Linked DNA regions of Homo sapiens. The protein of the gene in region 1 purifies or fractionates together with the protein of each later gene. This does not show direct contact. Each region holds a gene or a part of one and is shown on either strand. Other genes may lie near its edges.

Evidence for each region.
Region 2: the proteins of SYCE3 (region 1) and KNSTRN purify together in Homo sapiens (co-immunoprecipitation; 3 studies listed by BioGRID and IntAct, with this or other methods). This does not show direct contact.

Annotation. Positions count from the first base shown.
Region 1 is NC_000022.11:50,560,781-50,564,531, forward strand, and holds the start of SYCE3 (synaptonemal complex central element protein 3), read right to left. Parts: upstream 2,140-3,751; 5' UTR 2,078-2,139; intron 1,299-2,077; exon of another isoform or gene 1,013-1,298; intron 1-1,012. UniProt on the Homo sapiens protein: Major component of the transverse central element of synaptonemal complexes (SCS), formed between homologous chromosomes during meiotic prophase.
Region 2 is NC_000015.10:40,385,603-40,389,253, forward strand, and holds part of KNSTRN (small kinetochore-associated protein), read left to right. Parts: intron 1-759; coding exon 760-892; intron 893-1,556; coding exon 1,557-1,604; intron 1,605-3,651. UniProt on the Homo sapiens protein: Essential component of the mitotic spindle required for faithful chromosome segregation and progression into anaphase.

The DNA.
Region 1 (3,751 bases):
ACAAGTAAGGGGTCATTTCACCCTATGAAGGTAAGGGAAGGTAAGGAGGTAGAGATAGAATAAGGTAGGTAGAGGTCAAGGTAGGATGGCAAGGGGGGGATTTCAGGCCCGATGGTCTCTAACTCCCTAATAAATGGCAATGAAAAGTTTCTTCTTGTAACAACAGACATTCTTGGTTTGAGGAGAACGATAAAGCTTTATCAAAGCTGCATGCCTCCCTAGGGGCACCTAGGCATGTGACTGAGGCCACATGGCCACAGTGTCCTCAGGACCCTAAGACGGCACAGAGACAGTGGATGGAGTGTAGAAGGCCTGGGAACGTAAACATACATGCAGTGGATGGACAAGGTAAGGACACTGAGAGCACAAGTATGAGAGTGGCTTAAGGGGTGGTTGATGGTTGGGGTGAAGCAGAGGCATAGAAAAGACATGTAGTTTCTATAAGTGGGGCGTTGGGGTGGCCACAGGTAGATTTGGGGATAGAGCATGAGACTGCTAGAAGGATGGAGGCTGGGCCGGAGTGGCACTGGATCTCAGAAGAGGGATGGATCTGAAAAGGAGATCCAGGGAGAGGGTGTGAGAGCTGATGTGGAGGAAGCAGCCACAGGATTAGAATTCACGGCATTTCTTGCCTAATGAGGTTGCCTGGGATGACTGGGAACGGGTGGAGAAAGAGGCCTGAGCCCGCACCAAAGCACAATGGAACGGAGCTTAGGATGGGTGGCGGAAGTGTGGGGCGGGAGGAGCGTGGGGCGGGAGGAGTGTGGGGCGGGAGCGTGGGGCGGGAGTGTAGGGTCTGGCTTGGGTATCACTTTAGGTGTGAAGGACGGGGGTTGAGCGAGTCAGAGCCTAGAGTCTGGTTTGTGGTCTGAGTGTCTTGCCTGGTACGAAGAGTTTCTAACAGAGTCTGGGATCCCTCTGAGAACAAGGAATGTGAGGGGATAAGAGGGATGCTTGGTGCAGAGATGTGCTCTTTTGTACGGGATGAGAGCAGCACAGGAAGGGAATGCACCTGTGATGTGGGAGAGAAGTCTTGGAGTTGGGCTATGAAGAGTCTGGGCGGGTCCTGAAGTGCAGGTGGAGGAAGCCAGAGGTGCGTGTGGGAACTTGGGGTGTGAGGTGGTGTGTGGACTCCGGGGTCCCAGGTGTGGCAGGTGTGAGGGTAAGAGGGGCAGGCTGCACGGAATGAGAAGCCCAGGGTGTGCAGACTTCAGGATCAGGAGTGTATGGTGTGAGGACATGGAGATTAGGTTAAGGGGGTGAAGGACTGAGGTGAGGGATGTAAGGTGGGGAGAGTGGGGTATGGAGTGTGCAGTGAGGGGAGCGGGGGAGGGGTGAGGCGGGGTGAGGCGGGGTGAGGAGGGGTGAGGGGTGAGGCGGGGTGAGGGGTGAGGCGGGGTGAGGGGTGAGGCTGGGTGAGGAGGCGGGTGAACGGTGACGTGAGCGATGAGGGGTGAGGGGCGAGGCGGGTGAGGCGGGGTAAGGAGGGGTGAGGCGGGGTGAGGGGTGAAGGGTGAGGCGGGGTGAGGGGTGAAGGGTGAGGCGGGGTGAGGGGTGAGGGGTGAGGCGGGGTGAGGGGTGAAGGGTGAGGCGGGGTGAGGGGTGAAGGGTGAGGCGGGGTGAGGGGTGAGGCGGGGTGAGGGGTGAGGCGGGGTGAGGGGTGAGGGGTGAGGCGGGGTGAGGAGGGGTGAGGGGTGAGGGGCGAGGCGGGTGAGGCGGGGTGAGGAGGGGTGAGGGGTGAGGCGGGATGAGGGGTGAGGGGTGAGGCGGGATGAGGGGTGAGGGGTGAGGCGGGGTGAGGGGTGAGGCGGGGTGAGGGGTGAGGGGCGAGGCTGGGTGAGGAGGCGGGTGAGCGGTGACGTGAGCGATGAGGGGTGAAGGGTGAGGCGGGGTGAGGGGCGTCGGGGGAGGGGCATGGGGTGTGGAGTGAGTGGAGTCGGGTGAGTGGAGTTGGGTCGAAGTCAAGGGTCTGGCTTGAGGTTGGTGCCACCGCGAACGCTAGGACAGGGTCAGGCGGAGCCCAGCCGTCAGGGCGCGTTGGGAGGGCCGGGGCCCAGGGGGGCGCGGCCTCGCTCACCTCCAGCTTGGCCCGCGCTCCGGTCCTGCTCTGGCGCCCCCAGCGGCCGCTTGAGGAACAAGGCCGCTCCTCGAGAGGGATGCCCCGCCCTTTCCGTTAGCGAACCCTCCCCGGAAGTGACCTCTCGCCCTCATTGGGTGTCCTCGGGAAAAGGGGCGGGGCATTCCGCGCTGCTCCCACAGGTCTGCGGCGTCCGAGTCTGGGACTGGCAGGTGCGGTGCTGGGGACGTCCTGAGGTTGAGGGAGAATCCTGCGGAGATGAAGAGCTTCCCGGCCTGACAGTTTTGCCCCCACCTCCTTCTTGAGCTTAAGGATTTATACGCAGGGCCCCGTTTGCCTGCTGTGTCCCCAGTGTCCAGGACAGCGCCCGGTACCAAAGGTGCTGGTAAACATTTGTCGAATGAGTCGCTGAACGCCCAGCTATTTCCACTGTCACAGCGATCATGTGTGGCGGACATTATGTGGCATGTATCTTACAGAGGAGGCAGCCCGGGCTCAGGGAGACGAGGCAGAGGTGCACGCAGGTCTATGTGGGCTGGAAAGTGCTGGGGCCTCCCGGGCGCTCCTGGTCTCCAGGCAAGAACTGGAAGCAGAGCCACTCAACACCTAGAAGGGCAGTGACAGAAAGCTCTGGCTGGGAGGAGGCTGACCAGAGGCCAGTCTGAGCTCAGCCTTTTTTTTCAGAGGGACGTGGGCACCCTAGAAGGGTGGTAAGTAGGCGAGTGGCAGAGTTAAAAGGTCTCTGGCTGCCGAGGCGGGTGGCGACGGGGCCGGCCGTTGCTGTTGTTTGGCTGAGTGGTGGACAGGGTCAAAGCCATTCCAAGGTCGACTTGACAGGGCTTGGTAATGTGGGAGGGAGGGAGAAAGAAGCAAGGGGCTAATGGCCGGGGTGATACCACTGGCAGAGATGTGGAAGAGTGGGAGAAGCTAGCTTGGAAGGTTAACTTTGATTTTGAACACCTTGTGTTTGAGAATCCTGACAAACCTTAGACCCCCTGAATTTTCTCTCAGGGATTCTGATTCTTAGCAGCCTGATTGCAGAGGAGGAAAAATGGCTGGGGTTGAGCCAGACAGTTCTGGGCAAGGAGTGAGCATTCGCTTGTTTATTGAGGAGGCTGCTGCCTGGGCCACACTCCCTCCGCCAGCTGCCAGGTTCCTGCCCCGGTTGAACCCGGTTTTCTGGCCATCCCTTTCCACCTGTGAGCTGCTCTTCATACTTCCATTTGCTTATACAGCCCAGAGCCGATTTCTGTTACAGCAGCCCAGAGAAACATGAATAGGGAATAATTCTTTTTTTTTTTTTTTGAGACGGAGTCTTGCTCTGTTGCCCAGGCTGGAGTGCAGTGGCACGATCTCGGCTCACTGCAACCTCCGCCTCCCAGGTTCAAGTGATTCTCCTGCCTCAGCCTCCCTAGTAGCTGGGATTACAAGCACATGCCACAACGCCCAGCTAGTTTTTGTATTTTTAGTAGAGACCGGGTTTCGCTATGTTGGCCAGGCTGGTCTCGAACTCCTGTCCTCAGGTGATCCACCCGCCTCGGACTCCCAAAGTGCTGGGATTACAGGTGTGAGCCACTGTGCTTGGCCCGAATCAGGAATAATTCTGATGGCTAAGGAAGACAGCTTCCGAGAGAGTAGGAGAAAGGGCACAGGATTCCAGGCAGAAGGCCCATC
Region 2 (3,651 bases), on another chromosome or scaffold:
AGATGCCTTAGAATGGTTAGGAAGACATTCTAGTAAAAACAACGAAGTAACGGTTTAAAAAAACTCAGAGCAGCTCAGTCATGCCTTAGGAGAGTGTGCAGAGTGCTTGGAGGAGCTTAATGAGATGGTACAAGGATTCAGGCATGTTTTACCTGCTAACTTCCACCCTGCTCTCTGCTGGTGTCCATCTCCATGTTCACTTTTACAGCCTACACCTTTCAGTTCAATGAAACTTTTGGCTACCCTCAAACATGCTGTACTGTCACGTTTAAATAATTTTGGTTTTTATTGCCAATTAGCCTGGAAGTTTTATTCTTTTGAATTAATCTTCACATGTTGAAATTTGCCAGAATGAAAATAAAGATTTGGCCAGGCATCGTGGCTCACGCCAGAGTGGCCAAGGCAGGAGGATTGCTTGAGCCCAGGAGTTCGAGACCAGGCTGGGCAACATAGTGAGACCCTGTCTCTATTTTTAAAATTTTAAAACATATTTGAGGTGCCTATAGTCCAGCTACTCGGGAGGCTGAGGCAGGAGAATCGTTTGAACCCAAGAGGTGGAGGTTGCAGTGAGCCAAGATCACACCACTGTACTCCAGCCTGGGCCACAGAGCAAGACTCTGTCTCAAAAAAATAAATAATACTTTTTAAAATAAAGTAAAATAAAGATTTATGACAACTTCGAATGGGGCTCTGTTTGTTACAGGGTTGCAACTGTCGGGTCATGATGCCAGAAGCTTTACCTCTCATTTTCCTTTGCAGACACACAAACTCGGGCCACTTCTAAGAGTCTCTTACCTGTTAGGTCCAAAGAAGTCGATGTTTCCAAACAGCTTCATTCAGGAGGTCCAGAGAATGATGTTACAAAAATCACCAAACTGAGACGAGAGAATGGGTGAGAACGGATCATTAGTATCCAGTTAGAACATCTTCCTAGAAATTGCTCAATACAAAGAATTAGAAAACAGAGTTTTGGACAACACAAGTCTCCTGAACAACTGGCCTTCAATCAGTGGCCCAGAGCAGTGCAGCATTGCTGAGCTCTGTGCCAGAACCCTCTGTGTTGATCTTTCTGAAGAGACACAGCCAGAGTTATAAGAGGTGTTCTTTCCTCTTTCATCGCTTGCTCTGAGCATACAAGTGGCAGCACTGTAGTCATACAGCAACCCTGAGGGGTAGTCATGCAGGGTGGGGACTAGTTGTTATCCTAGGTTGCTGCTCTGACCACACAGTCCAGCCCTAGTGTGTGTGTATGTCCCCAGCCAGCAGTCAGTTCCAGGTGAGTGAGGTTGACATGAGATAGCCACGCCATCTTGAGAGGAACAGCTCTGTCAGGTTGTTAGGGTGGTCGGAGGCATGCCCCTTTGCTACTAAAAAGCCTTTTCAATAATCTGTGCCGAAGCAGTAATGCATAGTCTCTCAGAGCTCTTAAGCTTGTGCCATTTGCCTTTTATGTCTGGTTCTTTCCTCAGAAACTCAAGCTCTTTGTTCTGCCTGTTCACAGCACACTTAACAGTACTGTAAGTCTCTGATTCATTTCTTTGTTTCTGCCCTCCTAGGCAAATGAAAGCTACTGACACTGCCACCAGAAGGAATGTCAGAAAAGGGTGAGCATCAGGGTAAATCAACTTGGCCACTATTCTAGGGTAGTGGATCTCAATCCTTGGTTCTGCATCAGAATCATTTGTGGGACTTGTTTACTGTGTTAGGGTCTGGGTTCCACCTCAGGAACCTGAGTGGAATTTTCAGGGGTGAGGCACAGCTAGGTGTAAGAACCATTGTCAGTGCAAGAATCACTGGTGCTACTATCTTGTGTCTCAAGCAAGAGCTTTTTGGACTCCACGCCAGGACCACTGCTGATTGGAAATCACACTTAGCTATGGCCCATCAACAGGAGGGTAAAGCCTTCAGGAGAGGAAGGGCTGGGTGTATGTAGTTAGTGATCTCGAGATGAAGATTCTGGTGGTGGTGGTGGTGAAAACCTGGAGAAGGATTCATGTCTCATCTTTGAGGCTAGTTTGGAAGTTTTGCACTATCAGAAATAGAAATAATAAGCTGAAAAGTCTGTACAAATAGGTTTTAGTTCCAGATCTATTATTTGGGCATATCTTAAAAGTTTTGAAGACAGCAGGGCACACCAGCTCACACCTGTAATCGCAACACTTTGGGAGGCCAAGGTGGGTGGATCACCTGAGGTCAGGAGTTCGAGTCTAGCCTGGGAAACATGATGGGACCCCATCTCTACTAAAAATACAAAAATTAGCCAGGCATGGTGGCGCATGTCTGTAATCCCAGCTACTCAGGAGGCTGAGGCAGGAGGATCACTTCATCCCGGGAGGCAGAGATTGCAGTGAGCCAAGATCACGTCATTGCATTCCAGCCTGGGTGACAGAGCAAGACTCTGACTTACAAAAATAAAAAAGTTTTGAAGACAAAATACTAGCAAAAAAGACTGAGAACTTTAAGAAAAAACTCTAATATTGGTTGCTGAGACCAGCTTGGTCGGGGAGACCCTAACCCAGCGGCGCTAGAGGAATTAAAGACACACACACAGAAATATAGAGGTGTGAAGTGGGAAATCAGGGGTCTCACAGCCTTCAGAGCTGAGAGCCCCGAACAGAGATTTGCCCACGTATTTATTAACAGCAAACCAGTCATTAGCATTGTTTCTATAGATAGTAAATTAACTAAAAGTATCCCTTATGGGAAATGGATGGGCTGAATTAAAGGAATAGGTTGGGCTAGTTAACTGCAGCAGGAACACGCTCTTAAGACACAGATTGCTCATGCTATTGTTTGTGGCTTAAGAATGCCTTTAAGGGCCGGCGCAGTGGCTCACGCCTGTAATCCCAGGATTTTGGGAGGCCGAGGCGGGTGGATCTCAAGGTCAGGAGACCATCCTGGTTAACTATGGTGTTTCACCGTCTCTACTAAAAATACAAAAAATTAGCCAGGCATGGTGGCGGGTGCCTGTAGTCCCAGCTACTCGGGAGGCTGGGGCAGGAGAATGGTGTGAACCCAGGAGGTGGAGCTTGCAGTGAGCCGAGACCACGCCACTGCACTCCAGCCTGGGCGACGGAGCGAGACTCCATCTCAAAAAAAAAAAAAAATGCCTTTAAGTGGTTTTCCGCCCTTGGCAGGCCAGGTGTTCCTAGCCCTCATTCCCGTAAACCCACAACCTTCCAGCATGGGCATTAGGGCCTTTATGAACATGTTACAGTGCTGCAGAGATTTTGTTTATGGCCAGTTTTGGGGCCAGTTTATGGCCAGATTTGGGGGGCCTGCTCCCAACAATTGGTGATATTAGAGTTTATTAGATGATAAACTAACATTAGATAATAGCCCAGCTACTGGGCTAAGAAATGCACACGTGTTTTCTCTCTTATTACTCATAATAATAATACTATGAGATGTGGGTATTGTCCTGATTTCAAAAATGAGGAAACAAGGCCTCAGGGAGGTTATGCAACTCACTGAAGGTCATATACCACTGTGTAATAGCCAGGATAGAATGGGACGTGTTTGTGTAACTCTGTAGGCCGTATTTTTCTTTCTTTTTTTTTTAGACGGAGTTTTGCTCTTGTTGCCACCCAGGCTGGAGTGCAATGGCGCAATCTCAGCTCACCACAACCTCCGCCTCCTGGGTTCAAGCGA